Linked DNA regions of Homo sapiens. The protein of the gene in region 2 interacts with the protein of the main gene of each other region in a biochemical or structural test. Each region holds a gene or a part of one and is shown on either strand. Other genes may lie near its edges. The genes, in order: ROBO1 and SRGAP2.

Region 1 (15,376 bases), on a different chromosome or scaffold from region 2:
CTTAAAGTCTACACTCAAAAAAACATTTGCCCATTTCTGAAGCGGTTTTCTAAACACAGATGTTTTGCTTTGTTTATAATAGTAACAGGGAATACATGGGAGGAAGTGAAGAAAATGTTTTTTGGACTTCAGAATTCTCTTTCTCAAAGAATTGTATTTTGGCACCTACATTCCAGATGATTCCCCATTACATAAAAAAATTAAAATGAGAATTTTAGTTTAATGAATCATTAAATACCGTCAAACAATTGATCTTGGGTAGAAAGCAAAAGCAGGAATACTAAGAATGAGATCGCTAAGTATCTCGGATGAAGTCCAGGGAAGCTAGGCAAGTGGAAGAGATGACATCGAGATTGATATCAAACACTCTTACATATTGTTTGGTTGTTTTTATACTTAACCTAGAAATTAAGCTGATAAATAAGCAAGATGAAAAAAAAACAACTGGGATAATTCTGGCATCCCATACTTCATCTTCCTTTACCAATATTTTTGGTTAGGACCTGCCCTCAGGATAACTATTATCACAGCCTCTACGGAGTAAACACTTGATTGTCACCTTTCCATCTCTTCCTTACCCACTGGTCTCAATTGCTCCTACGACTCAAGCTGTCACCCATCTCTAGGATAAGAGTGAAATACTTGGAATGAAACAGACTTGGGTTTGCACCCCACCTCGGCAACTTAAAAACCACGTAACATTGGAACAATTTCTTAATCTCACTATTCTTCAGTTTCCTTATGCTTCAGATGGTGGCATCAAAGGCAGCTAATCCTGAGGGCTGTGGTAAAAGCTGTCTTGTGGTAAGACATAAAAAGTGCTTTTCCTCAGAGCAGGGATTGTGGACCCATAGTATATAGCATAGTGCCATATACATAGGTGTTGCTTAATAAACATAGGTTCAATTAAAATGTATTCATGTGTGGAAAACACACATATGATGTCAGTTTCCAAGTACTTCCCTCATACGTAAGCTCCCATCCTCACAAAATCATCCCCCTTTCAGAAAGTATCTTCAAATACAGAAATAACCACTTTATACATAACTGCCATGATCTGCATCCCAATCCCAAATTCCTCTGATTTGAGATAAACCTACCAGTCAGTTCCTTCATGAAAATTGCTAGATTCTCCCACCTAGTACCCATGACAGCAACAGCAGTCTATAACATTATAATAGAAATGTTCACAGCAGAGAGAAAAAGGGAAAGTGACACCTGATAATATAATTTTGAGAAGTTTATGAATTGATCCTGTTACTGTTTTTGTTCTCCTTCTCCTGAAAGAAACGTATGACAATGTAAAAGGTCTTTCTCAACATTCAGAATTAGACTTAAAGAAGACCTAATTGCTCCAGCCAAACTGTTTCCCCCAACGTTAAAACTTCGTATACACAACCTCAGAGGGGAGCCTATCCAGGCCCCACTCATTGATAATAACTGACATCATCTTAGGTATGATATGTATCTGTATAGATTCTTTTAAAACTAGGGCTCAAGAATGATACACAGACAGGGCACATGGGTGAGGAATCATAGTAACTAACAATGGTAACAACAGCCGCACCTCTGCCACAATGACCACCACCCCTAACTGCCAGGTGCTCATCTCATCTTCCTTGCATAATCAAATCTTGTCTTTGGGAAAGCACACTTTGATTACCACATAACAAGGCTCTAACTCCAACCATGACATAGGTCTACCTGACTCCTGTACTCGGAACCTGTGCCCTATATCTGTGCACCTTTAGCTTTTGACCCCAGCTCATTTCTAAGTATCTACACTTGGGGAAGATTCTTTTGCAACCACATTGCAGAAATGGTTAGAGAAATTATGCCTGCTCCCTTATGAATCACTTTCCAACAAGTCCTTCTTGAATTTCCTCACCCCTCATTTTTCTCCTTGCTGTGTTTGCCTTCTGGTCCCTCCAGTGAAATATTTTTGCAGGTGATTCCCCAGGTTCTTATTACAGTTATAATCCAAGGCTTCCAGCCTCAAATGAAGTCCAAGAATAGGCAAGATATGTGCCTCAATTTTACTTCTTCTCATGGGCCCTTTTCTGTTGCCTCGAGCTAGAATAAGCATAACTCTTCCATACGGCAGTCTCTTAAAATGTTAAGGAAAAGATGTCATGTCTGCTCTGATGTTATTATTTTCTGGCCTAATCATACCTAGATCCTTGAATGTCTTTTCATATGATGTGATTTTCAGCCTTTCATGCGGCCTCATCGACTATCCCTACTGTCCTCCTCTTAAAAGTCCATCTGAAAATGTAGTCTCCAGAACAAACACATTACTCCATTCATGAACTGAATAGTTCTAAGTAAAAAGAGAAAAATTACTTGATCCAGGCATAATTCTAGTGCCAGCTAAGACTACATTTGTTCTCTTGGCAACTGTATCCGTCAGTCGGTTCAGATGGGTGTTTTATTTTAAAGTCAGATCACTCCGAAAGCCCTGACACACTCACATATACTTCCCGTAAGCCTGCTGTCTTTAGTCTATCCTTTTACAGCTAATTTTTTAAACCCAAGTTCAAGTACCAGACTTTTTAATTTGCTCTATTAACTTTAATAGTTAGCACTCTCCCATCAGTCCAATCTGTTGAGTTATATTTAATTCTGATTCTCTTATTTGGCATACTAGCTGTCTTTCTCAGTTTTACGACATCCACAAATTTTATGAACTTCCTTTACTTTTAGTCCTGACACTAAAAGAAATACAAGTCCAATAACAGATTTTATGGGATAAAACAGAAAACAAATCTGAATCTTATATACTTATATATTGATTGGTTAATGTATTCTTTGTCCAATCCCGAGGAATGGGTATGTTTAGCCCCATTTTATAGGTGAGGAAACTCAGAAGGGCTGACTAGCTTGCTCAAGGTCACACAGCTAGTGGATTGAGGAGCTGAAATTTAAAAAAAAAAAGTCTTTGATTTCACAACTGTATGCCTGTTTCTCTATATTTCCAGTATTCCAGTTAACAAGGATTCATTATACTTAGAGTGATGTGGTTTGGCTGTGTCCTCACCCAAATCTCATCTTGAACTGTAGTTCTCCTAATCCCCATGTGTCACGGGAGGGTCTCGGTAGGAGGTAACTGAATCATGGAGTAGTTACCCCGTGCTGCTGTTCTCGTGATAGTGAGTGAGTTCTCAGGAGACCCGATGGTTTTATAAGGGGCTTTGCTCACTTTTGCTCGGCACCTCTTGCTGCCACCATGTGAACCGGGACGTGTTTCTTTCCCCTTCTGCCATGATTGTAAGTTTTCTGAGGCTTCCCCAGCCATGCTGAACTGTGAGTCAATTAAACCTCTTTCCTTTATAAACTGCCCAGTCTCGGGGAAGTTCTTTATTAGCAGCGTGAGAAGAGACTAATACATTGTTCCACTAGCTATGCATATGCAAAGGCAAATTGACAGAAATGTTAAAAAGACTAAATGAATGTTCAGACAGAATGCTAACTTACTGCTCACTTACAAATGAGGTTACATATTCCAGAATCATGCATGTGAGTACAGGACAAAACGGTGTTAAGCTCTAGTCATCAAAACCTTTCAGTTAGAGTCTACTGGCTGGAGACCACTGTACTGGGGACAAAAGTTTAAATTCATTTTATAGCTATCATTGGGTCTACATTCTTTACAAATGTGTATCTAATATCAAAAACCTCAGACTGCCTTAAGGCAGGCTGCAAGTATAGTAAAGCTCCTGGAGAGGTGATTCATAATAGCAAATATGAGCTATGGGTGTGTTACATTCACACAAGAGACAAACGTGGGCATGTTCTACAACTTGGTGTGCTTTTTCTGCAAATTCTGAAACAAAAAGTGCTTCCAAAAAGACTGTTTCTGTACATACTTGAAGTAACAAAACAGCAACATGGCTGGCAGACCCCTCTCCCAAACCAGCAGCAAAGGACTTTAAGTCTCAGTCATCTTGTGTATAACTTGTTTCTATTAAAATAACCAAGTCTATTTTTTTTTCTTTTTTCCTTTGTTCCCTTAAGATAGAAACACTATCCCTCTGTATGTTGAGAAAATAATTTTATAGTTCGAATCACTCCCCTCTAGAATTACCTTTCTTTACTAATATAAAAACAAGCACATTTTATTTACAATGACGTGATTTTTTTCCAAAAATAAAAGGTATCCAGATATCTCTCATATTTATGTGATCTCAAGAGAGTATTATTTGATTAGGGTTGTAATCTAAAAATTCATCCAGAAGGTTGTGAGTACTGAACTTATAAATAAATAAAATTTGGTTAATTTTAAATACAATTATAATATGATTAAGATTGTACACCTACATGTTACCATATTTAAAATTCAGGAAATTGAATAGAATACACAAATATTCACATATTTTTAAAATTTATGGGTACTAACAGGTGTATATATTTATGGGTACATGAGGTATTTTGATATAGGCATACAGGGCATAATAATCACATCAGGGTAAATGGGGTATCTATCACCTCAATCATTTATCCTTTGTTTGTGTTACAAACATTCCAGTTATACTTTATTTAAAAATGTACAATAAATTATTATTGACTGCAGTCACCTTGTTGCTATCTAATACTAGATCTTATTCATTAGATCTAACTATTCTTTTTTTTGTACCCGTTAACCATCCCCACCCTCCCCACAGCCACCCTACTACCCTTCCCAGCCTCTGGTAACCATCATTCTACTTTCCATCTCCTCACGTAATATTTTTGTCTTGATATATTTGTAATTTTATGAGAAACAGTTCTCTTTGTTAATCCATCTTATGTTGGTATGCTTAGTCCAGAAAATAATAAAGTTTGTAGACATTGTGTTTGTATATTAAAAATTAATTAAGCAACTTGGGCAACTTGAACAACACACTGTAAATGTACAATTCTAGCATGTAGCACAAGTGATTTGTCAGTGCAATTATAACATCTAAGGATAAGTAGGTGTCACAGGTTTAAGTAAATCAATATTTACCTTGTGTTTTCACTGGATCTGATATTTGGCTTGGATCACTAATTCCATATGCATTAGCTGCCCTCACAAGGAAAAGGTAAATTGCATTAGGTTTGAGTCCTTTAATGGCAGATGTTTCTGTTTTCACATTCTCTGCTACGGTCTGCCAGCTGCTACCAGATGCATGGCTAAGGATAGACACACAGGTTAGAACATGCGTATTTAATGGAGAATCAAAAAAGAACAACTAGGAAGCATCTCCTTCACTCTACCTGAAGGCTTCTATAATATAAGATGTTGGAGTTGCTCCTGAATTCAAATTTGGTTGCCACGATAATGTGACTGTATTTCTGCTGACATCTGTCACTTCAGGTTTTGATGGGGCACTAGGGATTAAATTTGGGTCAGTAGGTCTTGGAGGCTGAACTGGAACTCCAAATTCTAAAAAGCAGGAAAAAGGCCAAAATAAAAGATGTTTACACATACACAGATAAGCGGATAAATGCAGATAACATATTCATACACCTACTCAGGGAAGAGGACATTTACTTCATCAATATCCCAGTAAGTAAACAACTGCATTTTAAGCTTCACTTTAAGGGAAACACACCATTTACTTTACCTTGAACTTCAATGTAAGCACTCCATGTTGCTTCACCACTGGGGGTTGATGCAATGCAGGTGTACCGACCAGTATCACCCAGCTGAGAAGGCAGACAAAAAATAAATATTTGGAAAAATCAAGAACTCACTGGGCTGGAAAAGCAATTACAGGTTTGTATATGATCCATGAATATGGATAACTGCATTAAAATTCACTAACCAGAAACTTCCCCTTAGTTGAATATATTTTTATTGAATGTGAAGGAAAATATTACATCAATATAGAAAAAAAGATTTTATATGATTGTTCTAATGGTATAATAAGAAATATTTAATTGCATTAGCATATATTATCATCAGTCTCAGGGACAATAATTCCTAAGGTAAGGCATACAATTCTTCAAATTTAGAGCGTTAATATTTATGGCTAAGATATATCTTTATGTTTAATAAGTTATATAATAAGGCTGATAAAGTTTAACCAATGCCTATTCTTGCTATTTCATATTTTACTTATATATTTAACTATATGGATATATGAGATCAACAGAAAAAGGATAGGCATCATAGAATTTTTTTCTTAAACTACTGACTTTTCCGGGTTTTAAAACTTGTAACTTAAGGCAGTTTAAGAAGTACAAAGCCAAACTCAAGCTGGAACGAACACTCTCGCTCCCTTTTAAAAACTGAATGTCAGAAGGCAAACATAGGTTACATGTTCAACTTTGAAATCAGCAGCAGGATAATAAACCCATCTACTTCTGCTCAAGCTAATAACTATCTTCAAGTAACATTTGATAAAGAAAGAATGTTGTCATCTTGCCCTGGCAATTGCAGGAACCAAGTCACAACAGTCACAAAGCAGCACAACATATTAACTGTTGTGGCACTTAAAGTGAACTGTGATGCTGATCCAATACTCCAAAGGAACCACCCACACTAGGAGATAAAGCAACTGAAATTCATGTTTATTGCTGTCAGGACTATTCTTTCATATGCCTCAGGAGCTCGTCTGATCTTGACATAAAAAAAGAAGAAAAATCAAAACAATAAAGTCCTGAAAGAGCAGGCATGGGATATGATGCCCTGTGAAAGTAAATCCTTAAATGGTTCCTACAGACCTGTGGGCTTTCCATCATTGAGCATTCTGATTTGAATTGTACACTCGGTGTGTACATTGCTTTATGGCTTTTGTTTGCATGTATAGTTTTGCCATTGCAAAATGCTGAAACAAACACTTACAATAGAAGAACTATCTAAATATATTGCACATAAAATGATACAGGTAAATATCTTAAAAGATGCTTTATGGAAGGACTGCTTCGTACCACTACTTTGAAGATATTTATTCTCTCACAAACCCTCATTTACTTTCCTCGGTAGGTTCTTAGAAATCCTTTCTTCTCCTCCATACAACCTTAAATTACCTGCCATGGACTAAATTATGAGTTAAATCATCTCAAACATATACAATGAAATATCTGAAAAAAATAAAACATCAAATTAAAAATATATTACTACTCTTCATTTAACACTTCATTAATTGCAAAGTTAGAAATTTCAATGCCAGTTGTTGGAGGCAGAAACAAAGTGAAACAAAACAAGAAACGCAAGGTGCCATTCCAAGTTACCTTAGCATATCGGATCTGCAGTACTCCATTCTCCAACTGTTTGATTCGAGAGTCTTGGGTTGAAACGAGGACTCCATCCTTTCTCCACAGAATGGTGGGCACTGGACTGCCTGTGGCCACACAGCTGAGGACGAAAGTGCCATCCACGGCTACAGTCTGATTCACAGGACCTTGTCGAATAACTGGGGGAGGCCGATCTGCAATCACTGCCAGAAGAAACAACAGGAAATAGATTTCTGCAACTGGAAGCAATTTTCTAATCATCCAAGCAACAGCAGTTGTTCTAGGCTTTGAAACAAACTAAAGATAATTAAACAAGTAATTAAAGTAGCAGACATGCATTATTCAAAATGCATTTATATGATGCACTGATTCAGAATACTAAAATGAGACACAATGTGCTACTTTCAAATGACCAGCCACTCACTGAGCTGGCTGCATCGTCAAGAGGCCTATTTAAAGAGTTCGGGAATTAGGATTGTGGATGGTGAAGTAGATACAGAGACGTGATCATGGAATACTGTACTTTTTAAACTCAAAAACATGAAAAAACACAACATAACAAAAAGACCATTCCTCTCAAGGAAACATATGAGATAAATTTTAATAAATGAAGCAAAGCCAAATTGACATTTCATAACTTGTACAACAGAAAAAAAGAAACAAGGTACCATACCAGCATGTTTAACAATTTTGGATCCAAAAAAGTGCATTGGATTTCGTAATTTAATAAATCAGTGTGATTGAGTTCCCTGTGTCTTTTTATCTTGTAATTCTTTCTATTACAATATACATGGGAGAAAATTACCCAACTGTAATGAATTCAAAGAAATTGGAAAATTGCCCAAATACATTGTTGTTTGGCTGATCCAAAGAGACAAGTCAAAATGATGTTCTAACTTGGCAAACACCATACTTCTCTATTGGGATTAATGGGATTGGGAATGTGCCTCTGCTAACTCCGTTACCTTAGATAATAGTTATAACATACTACGGAAAATAACAACGAGAGGCAATTTTATTATGTGTAAATACAATTAACCCTATGATTACATGAAAAAAATCTAAAATCTAAAAACTTTATCTGACATGAAGTCTTTTTTAGGGGAAAACATAGAACAACTGTGTTGGAACTAGAATAAATCCTACATTGAAGAGGTGTTCCCATCCCCTGACTTAGGCAATTTATATGAAACTCTATAGTTTTTTTTTAATGACTTAAAAACCAAATTTCAGAAATTTTCTTTAAATATTCAACTTGAAAATTCTGGATGTTAATGAAAAATTTTTAAAAGACACAAATGTACAAAGAAAGATTCTAAGTTGCCTGGTTAAAGAAAAGTGGTTGTCAGAGTAACTAAATTTTGGAAGCAATAATTTTCAAAGCTGGATCTGTCATGTTCCAAGCTTTATGCACCAAAGATTTTCACAAGCTGGAGTCACACTTCAATTTGCTCCTCATTTGTCATGCAATAAATATTAGTTTTGTGCATGCAAACTAAAAAAAAAAAAAGAAAAGATAAACAGGAAAGCAATGGAGTGAAATCAGCAGCTGTGCATTTCCACTCTACTCTTCCAATTCTCTTCTTTGTCTTGGTTACCAGGGTGAAATTTGCAATATCAAGGGGTGAATTAGAAGGCTAGAGTTTGAAACTTGGCAGAAGGAATATTCTTTATAACTGATTATAATTAAGTCCAGTAGAAGAATGGTTTAAATTTGGTAGTCTTATCATATTTAGAAACAATCCAATATCTGGGAATATATTCAATGTTCTCTATCTTTATGGTTCTTTGATATTTGTATTTTATTTAGTGTCATCCACACCTCCCCATTCCATCCCAAACCAGTTATTGATGCCATTTTTGTGGTATAATTTACAATGTATACTTAACAAAAATAAAGCAATAAAAGAAAAAGATCAGCTCTAGCATCTGCCATATGTCTTTGGGCAAGTTCCTTAAATTCTCTAAGCCTCAGTTTTGTATTGTTTTTAAATCCATCAACTAAGCATAATAATATTTTTTTCTAAATAGCTCAGGCAGGGTATTGTTATGCATATTTAAATGGAACAGATAAGGGAGTGCTTGGCTAATTGCAAAAGGCTAGACATATTATGTACTGTAGTATCACTAGTGTCCTCTTTGGTAAAAACAACAACAACAACAAAAAAAACTATTATGTAAATCAGAGATGAAAGATTTGGCCGGGCACTGGGGCTCACGCCTGTAATCCTGCACTTTGGGTGGCCAAGTAAGGTGGATTGCTTAAGCCTAAGAGTTCAAAACCCACCTGGGTAACATGGCAAAACCCCATCTCCACAAAAATAAAAATAAAAATAAAAATAAATTAGCCGGCCATGGTGGTGTGCACCTGTAGTCCCAGCAACTTGACAGACTGAGGTGGGAGGATCACATGAGCCCAGGAGGTTAGGTCTGCAGTGGTGGACTTTGATCAGGCCACCGCACTCCAGCCTGGGTGACAGAGTGAGACCCTGTCTCAAAAAAAAAAAAAAAAAAAAGAGAAATATTTAAGGGTTTATTAAAGCAATTTGATGTTTCCAGGTAGAGAAATGAAAGTTTTTGATGTCATGAAGTAGAATAAAATACTCGTAAAATGTTTACACTTACAGACACCAAAGAATGTACTGCATTTATGAGTCAAATCTTAATTTAGAAGGAGACAAACCTTATATTCAGGTCTAGGATCTTCTGTTGGAATTATTAGAATGAATTATCCAGAAATAAAATAGGAAGTGTAAGAATCAGAAATGTTTAACAAAGTGATTAAATGCACGGACTTTGGAGTCAGAAAATGTTAGCACCATACAACAGAAATGTTCCATATCTACAACAGAAATGTTCCATATCTACTCTCTCCAATACAGTAGCCAACAGCACCAAGTGACTACTGAACATGTAAGTGTAGCTAGAGTAATTGGGGAATTGGATATGCAATTGTATTTAATTTTAAGTAATTTAAATTCAAATTTAAATAGCCCCATATGGTAAGTAGCTACCTTATTGGAGGGTGCAAACATGTCAGTTCTGCTACTTATCATTGTAAGTTGGGTACACATCTTCACATTCACTGCCTCAGTTTCTTCACTGGTAAAATGAGATATGGTTAGATTTGAAATTGTTCATGTGTGAAAAGTTTCTAGTATAGTGCCTGGCCCTAGGTAAGCTTATCCTATAACTTGTTATTAGTCACTGTAGCTCATTATTGTCAGTATAAAAATAATAGTGGTGGAGGTAGTGATGGTATAAGCAGTGTAACAGGTATAACAGGTGCTGTAATATATATTACAGCAGGGTTACACCACCTGTTATAAATATATATATATATATTACAGCAAGGTTACACTACCTGTTATAAAAATATATATATAATATAAATATATAAAATATATAAAATAATATATAATATATATAAATATATATATATTACAGCTAGGTTACATATATTTTATATATATATATATATATATATATATATATATATATATATATACACACATATATTACAGCAGGGTTATAAAAGTTTAGCTATCTTTTCCCCACATTTAGTGAAAGACTTCAAAACCCGTCCAAAATAAGGGTATATAATCAGAATGTTGTAATTTGTCACCTCAAAAATAGCGATCATGAAGTCTATGTTAATATACATAAATATATTTAGGAAATAATTTTAAGAGAAAAAGAACAGAATATACACACATTGATTAGTTCACGTACAAAAAGTCACATTATACACCAATAAACATCGCAGATAAAGAGCATAATTGTCATCCATTTACAAACTGCAAATATTGTATCTTGGAAATTATAAATTTGGCTATAAAATATTATTATTCCATTTTAGAAATCAGGGAACTGAAACTCTAGAAGTTCAAGTGACTTGTCCAAATCAAGTAGTAACTGGCAAATCTTTTTTCTGTATAAAATATAACACTCTTTGCACTATGTATCTATAAATTTTGTGAGATGAATACGAATGATTTTAAATTTTATACATTATGTAGTAATCATTAACTTTGTTTTCTTACCTTCTGATATTATAGTAAAGAGAAGAAAGATGTTCAGTTAAATAGAAGACATGAATTTGTATGTTTCTAAGTCAAATGCTATTAGGGATAGGTCACAGCTACAGTCAACACAACATTTTAAAGGCAGCTGCTACTTCTGTGCTTCATGTTTGATTCTGCCTTTGTCTTTGTTCTGTTTGCAAACAGTAAAGAAGGTCAAGAAGCTAAAGACGAATAGTATCCCCAAAGTACTCTGCCTACTAGCCATCCTCTGGACTTGCTAATGTATAAATACCGGTATTTCCAGCACTTGCAATAATTCTAGTTTTACCCATGAAGAATGAGACCACAGTGTTAAATTGTTTTCACAATATCAATAAGCTCCAAAATAAAGCAAACAAAACTTAAAAAACAGTGCCAAAACAGCAAACACGAAATCACCTTAAAACGCCCAGAGTTTGCAGGGTGAAACAGGACATTTAGTGTTGAACTGGCTAGTAGGGAAGAATCCCAAATTCACAGATATTTAGAGATTTTGTTTTTGTTTTTTATAGTTTAATAAAAGGTCTATGCGTGATCTAGTCTCACAAATACAAGCAATTTGTGATAACGTCATGTCAGTTGGCACATGAAAACCTTTGCTTTAAATTATAATTATAAAAATTGGAGATATTTGAGACTACTTTAGCATAGGTTTCTAAAATCTTTTTTTATGTATACCTATATATAAGTTGCTTTACAAAGTTGCAATTATTAATGTGTGTATCACTCTATGTTCTAATGTCTCTATATATTGGTTATAGTAGTCATTATTGAATTCACTATATGGCTTTCACAATCATTATTTAATGGCTGTAATGTACTTAAGACATTATAAAAATATTTTAGGTCATACTAGCTTATTGGAGCCAGTACATGTATAATACGTATCATATACAGAGGTAAGAGTTTGAGCTTTTGAGAGAGACAATCCTAGTGCTCAATACTCACTTAACCAAAAGCTAGTTCTTTTTCCTTTTTTCTTTGTTTCATCCACTCATTAAAAAAAAAAAAAATCAGCTGGCAGCCAAGATGGCCGAATAGGAACAGCTCCAGTCTACAGCTCCCAGCGTGAGCGACGCAGAAGATGGGTGATTTCTGCATTTCTATCTGAGGTACCGGGTTCATCTCACTAGGGAGTGCCAGATAGAGGGCGCCGGTCAGTGGGTGGAGCACACAGTTCGCGAGCCGAAGCAGGGCGAGGCATTGCCTCACTCGGGAAGCGCAAGGGGTCAGGGAGTTCCCTTTCCTAGTCAAAGAAAGGGGTGACAGACGGCACCTGGAAAATCGGGTCACTCCCACCCTAATACTGTGCTTTTCCAATGGGCTTAAAAAACGGCGCACCAGGAGATTATATCCCGCACTTGGCTCGGAGGGTCCTACACCCACGGAGTCTCGCTAATTGTTAGCACAGCAGTCTGAGATCAAACTGCAAGGCGGCAGCGAGGCTGGGGGAGGGGGGCCTGCCATTGCCGAGTTAGTTGTTTGATTAGGTAAACAAAGCCACCTGGAAGCTCGAACTGGGTGGAGCCCACCACAGCTCAAGGAGGCCTGCCTGCCTCTGTAGGCTCCACCTCTGGGGGCAGGGCATAGACAAACAAAAAGACAGCAGTAACCTCTGCAGACTTAAATGTACCTGTCTGACAGCTTTGAAGAGAGCAGTGGTTCTCCCAGCACGCAGCTGGAGATCTGAGAAAGGGCAGACTGCCTCCTCAAGTGGGTCCCTGACCCCTGACCCCCGAGCAGCCTAACTGGGAGGCACCCCCAAGTAGGGGCAGACTGACACCTCACAGGGCCGGGTACTCCTCTGAGACAAAACTTCCAGAGGAACAATCAGACAGCAGCATTCGAGGTTCATGAAAATCCACTGTTCTGCAGCCACCGCTGCTGGTACCCAGGCAAACAGGGTCTGGAGTGGACCTCTAGCAAACTCCAACAGACCTGCAGCTGAGGGTCCTGTCTGTTAGAAGGAAAACTAACAAACAGAAAGGACATCCACACCAAAAACCCATCTATACATCACCATCATCAAAGACCAAAAGTAGATAAAACCAGAAAGATGGGGAAAAAACAGAGCAGAAAAACTGGAAACTCTAAAAAGCAGAGCACCTCTCCTCCTCCAAAGGAACGCAGTTCCTCACCAGCAACGGAACAAAGCTGGATGGAGAATGACTTTGACGAGTTGAGAGAAGAAGGCTTCAGACGATCAAACTACTCCGAGCTACACAAGGAAATTCAAACCCAAGGCAAAGAAGTTAAAAACTTTAAAAAAATTTAGACGAATGTATAACTAGAATAACCAATACAGAGAAGTGCCTAAAGGAGCTGATGGAGCTGAAAGCCAAAGCTCGAGAACTACGTGAAGAATGCAGAAGCCTCAGGAGCCGATGCGATCAACTGGAAGAAAGGGTATCAGTGATGGAAGATGAAATGAATGAAATGAAGTGAGAAGGGAAGTTTAGAGAAAAAAGAATAAAAAGAAATGAACAAAGCCTCCAAGAAATATGGGACTATGTGAAAAGACCAAATCTACGTCTGATTGGTGTACCTGAAAGTGACGGGGAGAATGGAACCAAGTTGAAAAACACTCTGCAGGATATTATCCAGGAGAACTTCCCCAATCTGGCATGGCAGGCCAACATTCAGATTCAGGAAATACAGAGAACGCCACAAATATACTCCTCGAGAAGAGCAACTCCAAGACACATAATTGTCAGATTCACCAAAGTTGAAATGAAGGAAAAAATGTTAAGGGCAGCCAGAGAGAAAGGTCAGGTTACCCACAAAGGGAAGACCATCAGACTAACAGCGGATCTCTCGGCAGAAACCCTACAAGCCAGAAGAGAGTGGGGGCCAATATTCAACATTCTTAAAGAAAAGAATTTTCAACCCACAATTTCATATCCAGCCAAACTAAGCTTCATAAGTGAAGGAGTAATAAAATACTTTAGACAAGCAAATGCTGAGAGATTTTGTCACCACCAGGCCTGCCCTAAAAGAGCTCCTGAAGGAAGTACTAAACGTGGAAAGGAACAACCAGTACCAGCCACTGCAAAAACATGCCAAATTGTAAAGACCATCAAGGCTAGGAAGAAACTGCATCAACCAATGAGCAAAATAACCATCTAACATCATAATGACAAGATCAAATTCACACATAACAATATTAACTTTAAATGTAAATGGACTAAATGCTCCAATTAAAAGACACAGACTGGCAAATTGGATAAAGAGTCAACACCCATCAGTGTGCTGTATTCAGGAAACCCATCTCACATGCAGAGACACACACAGGCTCAAAATAAAAGGATGGAGGAAGATCTACCAAGCTAATGGAAAACAAAAAAAGGCAGGGGTTGCAATCCTAGTCTCTGATAAAACAGACTTTAAACCAACAAAGATCAAAAGAGACAAAGAAGGCCATTACATAATGGTAAAGGGATCAATTCAACAAGAGGAGCTAACTATCCTAAATATATATGCACCCAATACAGGAGCACCCAGATTCATAAAGCAAGTCCTGAGTGACCTACAAAGAGACTTAGACTCCCACACAATAATAATGGGCGACTTTAACACCCCACTGTCAACATTAGACAGATCGACAAGACAGAAAGTTAACAAGCATACCCAGGAATTGAACTCAGCTCTGCACCAAGCGGACCTAATAGACATCTACAGAACTCTCCACCCCAAATCAACAGAATATACATTTTTTTCAGCACCACACCACACCTATTCCAAAATTGACCACGTAGTTGGAAGTAAAGCTCTCCTCAGCAAATGTAAAAGAACAGAAATTATAACAAACTGTCTCTCAGACCACAGTGCAATCAAACTAGAACTCAGGATTAAGAAACTCACTCAAAACCGCTCAACTACATGGAAACTGAACAACCTGCTCCTGAATGACTACTGGGTGCATAACGAAATGAAGGCAGACATAAAGATGTTCTTTGAAACCAATGAGAACAAAGACACAACATACCAGAATCTCTGGGACACATTCAAAGCAGTGTGTAGAGGGAAATTTATAGCACTAAATGCCCACAAGAGAAAGCAGGAAAGATCCAAAATTGACACCCTAACATCACAATTAAAAGAACTAGAAAAGC
Region 2 (15,376 bases):
GCTCGCTGAAGTTTAGAACTGTTGCCTTACTGGCTGGCTGTGTAAATAAACTTGAAGCCCTGAGGGAAAGTTTGCCTTTGAACCTCTCCCCCGCCACCCCCACCATCTCAAAGGTTTCCAGAACATTACAAAATTCATCAGATTCATCAGATGGTTTTTAGCCCTAGAAAACAGTGAGAAATTGTGCCTACATTTTTTGACAAAGAGGAATCTCCGTTTATATTCTTCTAGAATGTTCTCTGGAGCCTGGGAAACCTCCTTGGAAGTGACTTGCTCTACACAGGATGAGTTCTGAACTGGTCACCCAGTCTTTGAGGAACTTCCCAGGAGTGTAGGATCCATCCCATGGGGAAAGAGGCTTGAGGGTTCCAAGGTGGAAACTGTGCGGCCAGGCTGCCAGGCTGAGTGGGTGATGGTGCTTTCACACAACTGCCTGGAAAGCCTCACCTGTTACTGCCTACTACCAGAGGAAGAACTTTAGAAATGAACAGTTTCTCTACTTTTCAGGAAGTAAGAACTTCCTGGTGCCCATCCTCATGAGTTCTGAAGTCCATGAGCCAGGAGATCAGGAATAGAAATGACTTTCCTAGTAACCTCTCTATCATTTCTCGATTCCTTACACTGGATGATTTTTTTTTTTTTTTTTTTTTTTTAGACAGGATCTTGCTCTGTCACCCAGGCCAGAGTGCAGTGGCACGATCATGGCTCACTGCAGCCTCGACTTCCCAGGCTTAACCAATCCTCCCACCTCAGCCTCCAGAGTAGCTAGAACCACAGCATGCACACTGGCTTTTTTTTTTTTTTTCTTTTTTTGTAGAGACAGGGTCTCATTAAGTTGCCCAGGCTGGTCCCAAACTCCTAGACTCAAATGATCCTCCCAAAGTGCTGGGATTACAGGTGTGAGCCATTGTGCCTGACCTACCCTGAATGATTTTAAATTTCATGAATTATTTCAAGAACTTGACCCAGCTTCTCTCCCCTGCCCTCCAACCCGTAATTGGATCCTGCCCTGTAGCCCATAGCAGATTATTCCTCCCCTACTTTTGTTTCCCACCCTCTCCTATGACTCACCTTCCACTTTTTCACCAGTTCACAGTCTGAACTGCAAAGCAACCTAGAGGCATCAAGCAAAATGAGAAAGAAGGAAAGCAAGTACTATTTATTAAACACCCACTCTGTGCCAAACTTGTGACTAAATTACTTTATTAAATCCTCACACAGCTGAGGATATAGATCTTTATCTTCAGTATATAGATGAGGCAGCTGAGGCTTAAGGAGATTAAATAACTTGCCCAGGATCACACAGCTACCAAGTATCAGAGCTGGTTTTCGAATCCAGTTTTATCTGATGCCGAAACCCAGTGTTTCCCTTCCACCCTGCTTCCCCTTTGAAAACCAGGAATGAATTCACATAGAGAATCAGACCTTGAGGAGTTGAGTTGTTCTCTATTTTCTAAAGAATTTAGTTTATACCTTCAAAAGGGCTTCCCTTTGTCTTGAGATATTCTAAGTTCCAAGTAGTCTCAAGTGGTTTTTGTAGCAGGAGCTAGACTGGAAAAACTCTAGAGCTTTGTATTTCATTATAAGCATTTGTCTATTGTGTGCAGTTAGGATATAGAGAGCATAAGATGGATTCAGTGCCCTCGCGCCAGGGAGGCTGTATGAAGGGGAAGACAAGAATTTTATGAGCACATGTTAATGTCCCTGTCACTCTTGCTTCTGTTGCAGTGATAGCCCTCATGGAGAGACTACCTCGGTTGAAGACTCAACCCAGGATGTGACCGCAGAGCACCACACGAGCGATGACGGTACGAGGCCCTGCTTCCTGGTCAGTGGGGACGCCAGGGGTGAGGCAGAAGGAAGTGATTATATATCCTGTGCATCTGATGAACCTGTCTGCCCAGCGGTCCCCTGAGGGCAGGCAGAGAGCTCCCTGTCTCAATTTCATTCCCTTCCTTCCTTGGAGAGGTAGCCCACCTTCTCAAATAGAATCGCTCGTATTAAACCAGAGGTGAAGAACTAGGCCTTTCATAGCCCTTCAACCTTCTTGCTCCACCTCCCAGCTCCTTGTCTGGCCTGAGTGCAGCATGATGTTGGTCCCTTATCATAGCCTAGACTCCTGCCAGACAGCTGGAGAACAAAGTGAAGGAAAGTACATTTGAAAAACAGTAAGCAATTGGGTGTGGTGGCTCACACCTGTAATCCCAGCACTGGGAGGCCCAGGCGGGAGGATCACTTGAGTTCAAGAATTCAAGACCAGCCTAGGCAACACAGCCAGACCCTGTCTCTTAAAAAAAAAAAAAAAATAGCCTGGCATGGTGGTGTGCAGCATCCCTGTAGTGCCAGCTACTTGGGAGGCTGCGGTAGGAAGATCCCTTAAGCCCAGGAGTTCAAGGCTGCAACAAGCTATGATTGTACTACAGTACTCCAGCCTGGGTGAGAGAGTGAGACCCTGTCTAAAAAAAAAAAAAAAAAAAAAAAAGTAAGCCTGGGGTGGGAAATAGCAGAGCTGGTTGCCCGGAACCCAATAGAAGCAAGCCAGAGGGAGTGGGAATGAGGATGCAGAAACCACATGCTTTCACGCCTACCGACTGGAAAAACTGACCCTTTCCAAAGTACAGACATGCGAGTGCCGAGCAGCGTGGTGGGCGTGCATCAAGGGGAGGAATGCTCAGCTGTCATCCTCAGGCCCCTCAGCAGTGCCCATGCTTTATGAGGGTCTGTCCAGCCAGCACATTTCCCCCGCTTCCAACAGCTCCACACCTCCTCTGGATCACATGGGCTCTGGAAGTCTCAGCAGCTGACAAGGGGCCTCAGAATTTTCTGGGCACAAGAATGAAATGGCAACAGTCTGTGGAGTTTTCCCTGTTCCCTGCCTTGCTGGGAATTCTGCAATTCTAGGCCAGCTTTCAAAGGAGAAAAAAAAAAAATAGGACTGCTTATTTAGATCCTGATGTCATAAGGATCCATATGATCATTTGCTACATTCGAGGAGGGGAGTAGGTGAACTAGGAAAATGAGTAGTGGGTTAGAGCCTACCTCGTGGCCAGCTCTGCTAGAGGCTTTATATATGTTATCTCTTAATCTGTAGTGAAAAAGATATGGCCGCTATTTTACAGTTGAGAAAATGCAGGTCAGGGAGGTCGAGTAACGTACCCGAGGCTGTAGAGAACTAACTGAGGTGGGTATATTTAGACAGGCCTTCTCTGACCAGCCTCCTATAGTGAAATCTCCAACCCCTCCTGTGCAGGAGCAGACCCACCAGCTAGGGCCATCTAGGCATGGTCTTATTTTTAAGCAGCCTTTCTCTCTGCTTCCCAGAATAGCCGACTTTCATCTCAGGTTCCAGCTTTCTGGGAGCCTTCTCTTTGCTCTTTGATCTCTACCTGCAGCCTAGCACAGACGAAGATAATGATAACAATAAGTCATGCACACATACCACTTACTATGGGCGGGACACTGTTCTAAGCACTTTTACAAATTGTAATTCATTGACTCTTCATAACAACTTCATGAAAAAGACACGATTATTAATCTCCATGTTACAGATGAGGAGACAGAAGCCCACACAAAAATAAAGATAGATTGCATTCGTAGACCCCTTTTACTTTTTTAGATTACTTTCATGTGCATTTTTTTCATAGGTTGGTCACAAAATATATTTTCATATTTTGCTCCTTGGAAAGTTGATTGAGCAAGTTATTTTCTCTTTATAGAGAGACAGAAAGCTCACATTCTACTTACTAGGGGGAATGGATAACATAAAATATTTAGAATACATGTATGTATTCTAAAAAATGTATGATACATTTTCTACAATTACTGGAATTATTATATAATTAGAAAAGAAATAATGCTTAAAAATATAGTATGGCAAGTTTGATGATAGACGTCAAGGCATGAAGATCTTTGGAAACACCAAAGAAGTTACTGTAGAAAGCAGGGGATGCGGTCGGGCGCGTGGCTCACGCCTGTAATCCCAGCACTTTGGGAGGCCGAGGCAGGCAGATCACGAGGTCAGGAGATCAAGACCATCCTGGCTAACATGGTGAAACCCCGTCTATTAATAATACAAAAAATTAGCTGGGCGTGGTGGCACACGTCTGTAGTCCCAGCTACTTGGGAGGCTGAGGCAGGAGAATCGCGTAAACCCGGGAGGCAGAGGTTGCAGTGAGCCAAGATCGAGCCACTGCACTCCAGCCTGAGCGACAGAGTAAGACTCCATCCCAAAAAAAAAAAAAAAAAAAAAAAATGGGATGCTTGAGTTGTGTTTTGATGTGCTTCATCAGGCAGATAAGAGAGAAGAAGATTCCTGGTGGAGGGAACAGTGTGAGCAAAGGCAGGTAAAAGGTGATACCAGTGCTTTCAGGATAATGGTATAGTCTGCGTGAGAATTACTTGCTTTATAGATCATCCATGGCTTCGTTTTCCCACTAAGTAATTTCCTACCACTGTAAGTTCAGCTAATTCAGCTTTTCCACCCAGTTTCCTGAGTCTGCAGGTCCCAAGAACATGTGTTTACTTCTTTTCCACCCTTCTCAGAATGTGAGCCCATCGAGGCCATTGCCAAGTTTGACTACGTGGGCCGGACAGCCCGAGAGCTATCCTTTAAGAAGGGAGCATCCCTGCTGCTTTACCAGCGGGCTTCCGACGACTGGTGGGAAGGCCGGCACAATGGCATCGACGGACTCATCCCCCATCAGTACATCGTGGTCCAAGACACGTACGTTGGGCCCATGGCATCTTTGGGGGTGGTCCCCAGCTGCTCTATGGGAGTGAGACTTCATTTCTGGAGCCATAGGACTATGAGGGAGGCCAACCCCTGGGGGGTCCAGTGCAGTCCTGAGGCTCACACAGTTCCTTGAAGAGCACCCCCCCCACCCCCCGCCCCACTCCCTGCACTCAGTGGAGAATTTTTTTAAATCTCTCCACTATCTGTGCCCCCTGCAAATCACCCCCTAATCCAGTCATTTTAGAAACCTGCCAGCCAGCCAGCACTCATCCATATTTATACCTGATGAGTGATAACAAGGGGTTTTTATTTGACCACCTATATTTCTTTTCTCGAAAGATCAGGCTGGGAAAACATTTTTGTTACTCTCTTTTTTTTTTAAACAACTATGCTCACCCCAACCTGTTGAGCCACTCTTCCACTTGCAAATTAAAATGACTGGTTTTCTAGGAGAAATCCGGCTTAAGCAGCCTTATGGAAGTGACCTAGTTCATTTAACCGAGATGAGGTTGATATAGGGTAAGATGGGGGAAGGAGGGAAAAGGATGTCAAGGAACAAAGGAAACCTGAACTGGTCCCAGAGAGATCTCATCTGATAGGCTGTTGGTTGATTCTCACACTTTGAAGCAGTTGTCCCGTGGGCCCACCCAAGCCTGCCCCCTGTCCGTTTGCCCTGTCTCTGTCCCCAGCTCCCCTCCCTTGGATACGATGCTGTCAGTGTTTTTAGTCCTTCCCTTAATATTATTTTTTAAAGGTTGATATCCTGAGTGAGTCTGCACCCTCCCAGCCTCTTCCCGGCTCGTTCTGCAGGGAAATCCTCCCTCTGTTGATAGCATCGCAAACCTGGTGGCAATCTGTGCGTGGACAGGACCCTCCCAAATTTAGCATTATGACTTCACCACAGGATCAAGAGAAGATGAATTGTGGGGGAGAAGGGGCTTTCTTTGTCATCAGTAGCCAGAGGGGCCAGGAGAGCAGTGGAGAGACCTGGGACCGGCTTGGATGCTCTGAGCGGGGCTAGAGGCGCTACGACAGTGTGTGGCGGTGTCCTGCCACGACGCCGCCGTCTCCAGAGCCACCACACAGTTGACTGTCCTTACCCGGCAGTGCTCAGGACCTCAGCCGATAAACCACAACCTGGACTTGCCGCCTCCTTCTCCAGGAGGCCGCCCCAGCACGGCCTCCCCAGGAAGCAGCATGGGGTAGAAGGCAGATGCCTCGAATCCAGGTGTCCCCTAGCCACGCTTTCCTGAGGAGCTGAGGAGCCCGCAGAACTCAGCGGATTATTTATTTTTATTTAAACGACCCTTCAAAGGCCCTTAGGTTTCCTTGCCTCTGCTCACAGAACTAGTCCAGCCAGGTGTCGCTGCTGCCTCAGAGCTGTGTGGGGTCGCGTGTATGTCGGGGGGCCATCTTGCCGATTTAACGCTGCTTTTTGTGTTGTTGTTGTTTTCCCTCCTCCCTGCCTGCCTGCCCCTTCTCCCCCAGCGAGGACGGTGTCGTGGAGAGGTCCAGCCCCAAGTCTGAGATTGAGGTCATTTCTGAGCCACCTGAAGAAAAGGTGACAGCCAGAGCGGGGGCCAGCTGTCCCAGTGGGGGTCATGTAGCCGATATTTATCTTGCAAACATCAACAAGTAAGCTCTGCTTTTCATTTTCTGCTCCCCTGAATGACTTGCAACACCCAGCCTCACCCTCTGGCCTAACCCCCATCTCCATTCCTGTGCTGCACGTAGGGCTCCCAGCTCCCCCAGCCTAACAGTTTGCATGTGGTCATTGCTGCTGCAAGGCGGACAGGGCTGAGGATGCTGCTACAAGCCTCGGGGCAGGTCCAGGTCTCCAGCTAGCTGCCCTCGTGCTGTGGAAGGGTGCTTTACTGTGTGTTCCCGCAGTGTCTGTCCACCCAGACCTTTGTGGCAGTCTTACAGCTAAAACTTTGACCAAAGCTTTGGTCACTTTATGCAACCTGGTTTTGTACTGTTTCTCAGAGGTGCCTTCTTTTTTCCAATCCATACTCAAATAATAGTCTTTGATGTCTGTCTTCCTTGACCCGTGTTCGTGCAAAGATTCAGAGTCTGTGTGTGGCTTCTACTAGGCTGATGTTACACCAGGTGGGTTTATTGAGATATCATGTGTCTGTTCCTCCCCCTGTCCTGCATTCACTCCTGTGGAGGAAAGGAGGCCACGATGTCCCTAAGGAAAGCTTTGTCCTGAGCTCTTCATTCATTGGCTAACCCCTAGCTCCCTTTTCTTCTGCCCTTTCACACCAGGAGAAATAATTTTCCATTTTGTTCCTATTGCTTTGGCCTTTTGTATTATTCTACCCCCTTAGTCCCTTTGCAGATCCCCACTCCTGCTCAGCAGGCTCTTACCTCTGACCCCCAGCTTTCATTGTGGCTGTTAGCAACATCCTGGGGTTTAAACTCCACCCACGCCCGATCTGGCTGTCTAGAGGGATTCTACGCCTGCGTGCTGCCGCCTCCCCAAGAGGCATTCAGGTTATTGGAGAACTAATCTCATCTCAAGGGGCCAGACACCAAGTCCCAAAGCCTACAGACCTCTTTCCGCCAGGCCCTGAAACCTGGCCCCGTGCCAGCAGGATGACAAGCCCCAGGGCGCTCCTGATGAATATGGATTGGAGATGATGTACAGTTTTTATTCCCCTCTGGCTTTTGAGGAATGAAATGATTTGCACTTTGAAAACCTGTTAACCGTAGCCTCTGGACACTGAGACTGGAAGGAGAATAAAGGATGCTTGTTGTTTTTAAACTATACCAGGTTTCCCAGATCTCTTGGCTTTTTTCCACCCAGACGGTAGCAGGGGGAGTGGTTGGGGCACGTGGCTCTTTTCCATCTCTTTCACCCTCAAGTTAGTAAAGTCGTTTATTCAGATCACTTACTCAGTGTAGTTATAATTTAATTCAGACCAGTTAAAAAAAAATTGAGAAGTTTCTGTTTCCCTCCAGCACACTGCCCTGCTGGGAGGGCAAGCCAATATCAAGTAACTGTGGGCTAATCACATTTTTTTCCTTATTTACAATTCTGTGTTAAATTGTAACCCTACAATCAAAAGGTCGTGATCCTATAATTAACTCAGAAACCAAGGCGGGGTTGGTGGAGGAAGAGTTAGATAATTAGTTAAGTACATATTTTTAAGCCATCATATATTTGATGCCATTTGTGCATAGAAATTGTAGAGAGTAATAACTGAAATGGTAAACAGAAGAAGAAAAAAAAAGAGTATCTGTAGACAGTTAAGGTGGTTCCCTTGAACTCCTTGTTTGCTGGTGTCAGGAGTCTTGGGATGGGGTTCTTGGAGGACAAGCCTCATCACCTGGTGGGTGGGTGAGCGGTGGCCCCGGGGCATGTCTGGCCCTTAGAAGTGAGTCGGCCTTTGAGTCTTACCTCCTGCCCCCCACGCCACTCCTCCTCCCAAATTCCTTGAGTTTCCCGAGTGCCCAGGTTCTCTTTCGCCCCTGGGCGCTCACGCCTGCTGTCTCCTCACCTGGTCACCTCCTCATCTCCCTTCAAGACTCAGTCCGAAGACTTAGCTCTTTGGGGAAGCCATTCTGACATCCCTGACTTCCCCAGGCTGAGTGAGGTGCCCTTATGCTGCATTCCAAAGACACTTTGAATACCTTTTGGTACTCACGCTTCACTCAGATCCCCCACCAGATTGAGCTCCTTGAACCCAGGAACTATATCTTCCTTTTCTTTACATCCCCAGGGCCTAGCCTGGGACATGGCACACCACAGCCACCCCATAAATCTGTCTTCTCAGCAGTTTCAGCCCATGAGTCAGCTATCCTCAAGCAGAAAAAGGAAATCAGCAAAGAGCTATTAGGGTGTGGCACTTCCATTTAATTCTACACATTTATTAAGTATCTACTGTTGTGCCAAGCACTGCTGGTGTTTATTCAGAGATAAAAAAGACGAGGTCCCTGATCTCAGAGCTCACAGTCTGGCAAGGTAAAGACCCTATGGACAGGTAACTGACAGGTAGCATCAGATGCTCTGAAGGTACAGAGGAGGGAGGGGTCCATTCTTCCTGCAACTGGAGTTAGTGGTGCAGTGGTGCCAGTGCAGTTGGAGTTAGTGGTGCCAGGGAAATCCTTGCAGAGAGGGGGTTCATTTCAGCAGGGCCTTAGAAGACTCTGAGAACATCCTTTTTCCACTCGAGAGCGGCTGAGTCACAAGCCTAAAACTGCCGAGTGGACAGACTCACGGAGTGACTGATACATGCCAGGTCCTGGGCCAGGCCCTGCAGGCAGAAAGATGAGGAAGACCTCAGCAGTGAACAGGACTAGGACTGGCTTAGAGCACTGTCCCCACCTCACAGACCAGCTCCTTATCTTCAGAGTCTAACCCCTTCCCTCCTTCCACCTCAACTCCTGCCTCAGCCCCCATCTCTCTTAGATTCAAGATCAGAGCTGTTCAGCAGCCATCCAAATCAGAAGTTTCATTGCCTCTTAGATTAGACCTTTTCAGATCTGATTCCAAGACAAAATGAAATTATCCAGCAGCAGGCAACACCCATGTAACTGGGATTCTGCCAAGCCATTTTGTCTGAGAGCCCTAAGTGGTCTGAAACAAATTCGCCCAGATCCAGGGTTCAGCCCAGTGCTGGGTGACTTGGGAGTCATGTAGAGGTATTTCCACACTAAGAAAACGCACAAACTGGGCCCCAACTCTGCAGTGTTGCTGCCTCTTGAAAACTATTCTGCTCCATGCCTACAGAATAAGCAACAACAGCCTCTTGCCAGAGCCCAAAACAGTTACAGTCTTTTTGGAAAAAGAGTCATGCTAAAATTTAGAAAAGTTAACTATCCTCTTACCAGCAATCTTGACCTCTTTGGTGATGGTGAGACTTCTTCTCCTAGCTGGGGCCTTAGGTTTCTGTTCATGGCAGGTCACAGAAGGGGCCTTTCCATGAATCTCTTTCCCATTAGAAACCTTCGCTTAATCAGACATTTTTTCTGACAGCAACTTACATCTTGACAACACAAAGCCCGTGACCACCAAGTAAGTATCCATTTCTCCTTCACCCAGCTTGGGGGTGGCAAGGGAATGAAGACATGGAGAATGCAAGAGAAGATGAAGCCGAGGAGAGAACGAGTTCTGTGTCCCTCTCCTTCCGAAGTCCCTGGGTGCCAACATCTGCCCCCTCCCACTTATCCTAGCTTCCTTGGAGCCAGGGCTCCCTGATCACACTGCCCTTTCTGTTTGTGATTGAAGGCAAAGGAAGCGTCCAGAATCTGGGAGCATCCGGAAAACTTTTCGGAGTGACAGCCATGGGCTGAGCAGTTCCCTGACTGACTCCTCCTCCCCAGGGGTGGGGGCTAGCTGCCGCCCATCCTCCCAGCCCATCATGAGCCAGAGCCTCCCCAAAGAAGGGCCAGATAAGTGTTCCATCAGTGGGCACGGGAGCCTCAACTCCATCAGCCGCCACTCATCCCTGAAGAATCGGCTGGATAGTCCACAGATCCGGAAGACTGCCACAGCGGGAAGGTCAAAAAGCTTCAATAACCATCGGCCCATGGACCCTGAGGTCATTGCTCAGGTAACTGTGGGCTCCTGGACAGACAGCATGAGTCTACATTCATCACTACCACTTAGTGCCACCCACCTAATTATGACAGGACTTGAAACAGAATGATTATTTTGTATGTGATATACTGAGTATATGTCCACTCTGGACATGTGGACCCAATAAGACAGCTTAATAAGTGGTCTGCCTGTCCCTCTCTCCCCAGGAAGAACCTAAAGACAGAATAAAAGAAGCCTAGCTTCTTGCTCATACACTGGCTATTAGGAAGGCTGTTGTAATTTTTAAAGCCGGTATTAAGAGTATTTTGAAAGCCCAAGTTTTGAGTCTAAAGACCTTGGTAGACTTTAGTGAAACTGCCCGACTGTTGAGGATCAGGTGTAATCCTGGCCACATGTTTATATTGCTGTGCCCATCACCATCATCCCGATTCCTAAGGCTAGTCTCTGGTACCGAATGGGTAGATGATCAATTAAGAACCTGCACCTGGTTTTAAAGACCTAAAAAATACTCTGGCTGCAGAGAGCTCTGGTAACCAAAAGGATTTGCAGCCCAAGCCTCCAGAGGCTATGGAGATGAGCTCCCTGGTTGCAGGGTCTTCCTTCTGTGTATGCACCGCACTGATGACTCTCTGTTTTCCATGAAATATTAGAGATCCAACCCCACCTCTAAAAATCCGACTACCGGGGCCACTCCAAGCAGTTCACTCAGACGTCTCTCCCAACTATATAATTTTCATTAGACCAGGTAGGAACTAAGGGCTTATTGTTGCCTTCTTATCTCAACTGAGTTGAGATTCTCCTTACCCCATCTTCCAGGGGGTGATAGAGGCTGGGCATGGTCTCTCTTGGCTTAATTGTGGTTCTCTGCTTACGGAGATGTACCTGGCAAGCCCAGTATTGAGCTACAGGCCTGAGATGTCTTGCTTTGCTAGCCTTCTATTCTGTGCCTCTATTTAAGCTCTTGGCTGCAATCTGCCTTGCGCTACGGGAATCCTCCCAGCTCCCTCCTTGGCCAGGTGTTAATAGGAATGTCAGGAAAGGTAGACAGCTGGGACAGACTAGCTGTAGAGTGCGACTGAGGAGGGAGATGGAGTTCTTCCTGAGCATTTTAAAGGTTTGAGAATGTCATAGGGATGAGTGAAACTGAATCACTGTGAACAGAAAGCATGCATCGGTCTGTACGACAAAGAAACCTTAACCAAAGGCCTTCGCTTGGAATGTGTAAAATCTTTCCATGTGAACCTAATCCCAAGAAGAAATCCTGTGGTAGTTTGGGGGTGCCAGACACAGGTTTATGGGGAGGGAGCGGGGAGCTGGGAAGTCTCACTGGAAGGCAGCTGGCTTGCATACAAAGGTTCTTTGGTTCTGCCTTGAGTCCCTGGGCTAGGACTGCTGTTGGCTAAAGATCTAGAGTGTTCCATTGATTTGCAGGCAATTGATTCACCTATGTGGGCTTTGGCTCCCCTTCCTGGTCATTCTTTTGTCCCCTTGGTGGTGATGGCTGGAAGGAAATGGTTTCAAATTGGACACTGCCCTGAGTTGGGGAGGAGGGGCGGGGGGAGGCGTATTGGGCTCCTGAAACTTTCCTCAGCCCCTGAGGAGGAAGGACTAACCCTCTTCACCTTTGGCCTTGAAGTCCAAGAGAATAAAGATCATACATCATCTCTACCACTTTTTAAAAAAGTGTTTATTATGTACAATTTCAAACCTACCCAAAAGCAGACAGAACTGGATAACAAATCCCCATGTACTCATCACCAAACTCCTGGCCATTCTTACTTTGTCCGTGTTTCTCTTCCCCACTAGATTATATGTCACTTCGTCGATAAGTATTTCAATATCTATCTCTAAAACCTAGGGTCTCTAAAAAAATATCAATTACTTTTTCTAAAGGAAAAAAAAAAATCTCATGACAGTGAAAATCCCTCCGTCCCCCTTTCCCTACTTCCTGAGCATTCATATGTTCAAAGATTTAGGCCAAGTACAATAATCTGGACATCTTACGGTCATTTTCTTCATGCCTTGGCCTGTGTTGTTGAAACCGGCTCCTTGGGGAATTCTCCCCTCATTTGCCTCACCTCCTCCTTTTTCCTGTTTTGCAGGATATTGAGGCAACAATGAACTCGGCCCTGAATGAGCTACGGGAACTAGAACGGCAGAGCAGTGTCAAACACACCCCTGACGTGGTTCTGGACACCTTGGAGCCCCTCAAAACCTCCCCAGTGGTGGCCCCCACGTCAGAGCCCTCCAGCCCTCTGCACACCCAGCTCCTCAAGGACCCCGAGCCCGCCTTCCAGCGCAGCGCCAGTACTGCTGGGGACATCGCCTGCGCCTTCCGGCCTGTCAAGTCTGTCAAGATGGCTGCCCCGGTCAAACCACCAGCCACACGGCCCAAGCCCACTGTCTTCCCCAAAACAAATGCCACTAGCCCTGGTGTCAACTCATCAACTTCCCCACAGTCTACTGACAAGTCTTGTACTGTCTGAGGGATAATAATTTAATTGTTCTAGACAAGGGGACTATAGGGACTGACTGTTATTAAAATCTTCCTATTTAACTAGCTTGGGGACTTCAGTTGAAAATTAGGTTCTAAGTTGTTCTTGCAGGAATTAGCCTCCCCGTCTCCCAAAACCTTGAGAATGAAGCCCTTGGTATCGCCTCTCCCTTCCCACTGCCCTCTGCTTCCCCCAGTCGTCGTAATTCAGCCAGCTGCAGTCCGTACCGTTCTTAGGTTAGCCAGAGACAGGTTTTCATTATCAGGTCACTGTGAAATCTGGTAAGGCAGTCCTGAGGACATGGGCTCAAGTCTCAGTCCCCTCAGACCACGGTGATGCCTTGACCAGATGGTTGGCTACTGCCATCCAGCTTTCAGTGGCATCTTGTTTTGGGAACTGATTATAGAGAATCATATATAGTCCAGTCTTCATTTTACATACACACACATATTTTACACACACACACATTTTACACACACACACACACACACACACACACATATGTTTTTCTAGTCTCTGGCATGTGTAGCCTCTCCTGGTCATAGACCAGTCTCTTTGTAAGTTATTGTGGCAGTTCACACAGTAGCCACCAGGGGTCTCTGTTTCCATCACAAACTTTGTTCTGTCTGGGCCAGAGAACCTAGCCTTTGAAATCTCTCCATCATATGAAACATAACGGGATGGGACAATCCCGTAACCTGTTTGGGGTTGGGGGCTTTCTCTCTGTGTTCTTTCCATTGATGTGAATTGGTCATTGGTGTTTGCTCTTGCCTCTCCTCCATCCCCTAGAAGTACACCCCCGTCTTATTAAGGAGCTTTTAAAGTTTTTCTGAATGTATAGACATTTCTCGGGTTCCTACCTTTGTCTCTGATGGACCATTTTCCATTTAAGACATTTTCCTGTATAAGACAGTTTTATAGCTGGTTCCTTTTAGGGTAAAGAGTCTTAAGAGAGTTTTATTGTGTCTATGGCAGGTTTGGGAAAGGTAAGAAATGGGTCCTTTTTCCTCCTAATGTTTTTGGCACTTAAAACATAAAATTCATTATCCTATTAAAAAATTAAATTCAGCTTTGCTAATCCAGAAATTGTTCCCAAATGAAAACTTGTTTTAAGTCCACCCCTTAGTTTCCTTATTTTACAAGGTCTCTCTTCAGGGACCAACAGGGGCTTAGAGAGCCTTAGTTAGATTAAAGGGAGACCCTACCTCTTAAAACCAGTTTTCATTTATGCAAACAAGGACAATTAAGGGAACCCTGACCCCACAGGCTCTCAAGTCTTCCCAAGGCCAGAATCGAAAGAAAATTAAAATTTGAATGCTGAATATTCTGGCTCTACTCTGGCCTTTTTTCTGGTTCCCTTCCAAAATGCACAAATCATACCCTTGTCTGCTCCAATTCAGTCTCCAAACCTGGTGCCTGTGCTCCTGGCCCCCCTAGCATCATGCTATCCCAGGAGTATCAGGACCAGACACATCCACAGCCAGGCTCATGGGTCTCAGACAGCAACTTGAGTTAAAGCTGAAACTCATCCTTCTTCTCTGTGTTTTCTGGTTTAAAAGCTGCACTTATATTTTAGCCTTATTATTTTCTGTAGTTCCGGAGAGATGGTGGGTTGCCATTCTGGTAGGAAAATCTGAGTTTTCTTATCTTTGACCTAGAAGAGATTCTTTTTGGACCAACCTGCGAAATTGGTAGTTAGGTCTATGGAAAGTGGTAGGATTTTTTTTTTTTTAATCCTGTGCAAAGGAAAAGAGGTGCTTTGTGGGAAATCACTAATGAGAAGGCTAACCTGCAGCACCAGAGAAACCTTTCCAAGTGCTAGGCAGGAGAACTGAAGAACTCTTTCAGTGAAGTGAGTCAGCCTAGAAGAGGCAACCCACAGTCTTGATTTTTGTTGCTGTTTCCTGACCTGTTCTTGCCTGTCACCTGGGCCTACACAGGTCCCAAGCCAACGGGGCTTTCATACCCAAGGATCTGTTTCCTTGCTGAAAATGAAACCCTATCTTTCACTTTACATTCCTTTCAATCCAACTGATCAAAACTGGTACCCACACTTGCCCTTTCTCCCTCTCTCCAGCACACTCCCCTCTAAGAAAGTAAAAGCAAAGCTTTCTTAATGGCAACACTTTGGGCCTGTTCTGTTGCTCCTGCCTTATTTCTCTTTCAACCCTGTACATGACTCGTGTTCACCATCCCCTTGATCAGTGTCCATCCGCGCTAATTTGCATCATGAACTGAACAGTGTGTGAGTGGTCACCTACTAAACCCAGCTCTGGGGGCAGAGCTGTCTTCCCCATCTCTGGTGCTCCTAACACCTGTGAGATGGTCCTGTCGAGAGGACTAGGAACCGATAGGAGGAGAGTCCTTCTCGGCAGAGCTCACTGCAAACAACTGGAATTGAGGTTGCACACTGTGATTTTTACACCGAAAAGCCAAAAGGAGCTGGCCATCCAGGGCCTAGGGAGACCAGCCTTCCTCAGCTATGCTTGCCGAAACCAGCATGATGCTTCAAAGAGCCCTGCTCCACCCCTCATGGCATGGATCCTTTTCCTGGTGTGGACTCTGAAGGGTCAGTCTTCGGGGAAGAGAGGTGGGGTGGGGCTA

What was found.
Region 1: the proteins of SRGAP2 (region 2) and ROBO1 interact in a biophysical measurement, tested with the Homo sapiens proteins (one study listed by IntAct).

What each region holds. Positions count from the first base shown.
Region 1 is NC_000003.12:78,662,899-78,678,274, forward strand, and holds part of ROBO1 (roundabout homolog 1 isoform a precursor), read right to left. Parts: intron 7,404-15,376; coding exon 7,198-7,403; intron 5,668-7,197; coding exon 5,586-5,667; intron 5,405-5,585; coding exon 5,236-5,404; intron 5,152-5,235; coding exon 4,985-5,151; intron 1-4,984. UniProt on the Homo sapiens protein: Receptor for SLIT1 and SLIT2 that mediates cellular responses to molecular guidance cues in cellular migration, including axonal navigation at the ventral midline of the neural tube and projection of axons to different regions during neuronal development.
Region 2 is NC_000001.11:206,448,658-206,464,033, forward strand, and holds part of SRGAP2 (SLIT-ROBO Rho GTPase-activating protein 2), read left to right. Parts: intron 1-1,728; coding exon 1,729-1,808; intron 1,809-4,542; coding exon 4,543-4,723; intron 4,724-5,486; coding exon of another isoform or gene 5,487-5,499; exon of another isoform or gene 5,500-6,220; coding exon 6,221-6,367; exon of another isoform or gene 6,368-7,115; coding exon of another isoform or gene 7,116-7,134; exon of another isoform or gene 7,135-7,502; intron 7,503-9,713; coding exon of another isoform or gene 9,714-9,752; intron 9,753-9,965; coding exon 9,966-10,290; intron 10,291-10,927; coding exon of another isoform or gene 10,928-11,017; exon of another isoform or gene 11,018-11,022; intron 11,023-12,379; coding exon 12,380-12,763; 3' UTR 12,764-15,376. UniProt on the Homo sapiens protein: Postsynaptic RAC1 GTPase activating protein (GAP) that plays a key role in neuronal morphogenesis and migration mainly during development of the cerebral cortex. Regulates excitatory and inhibitory synapse maturation and density in cortical pyramidal neurons.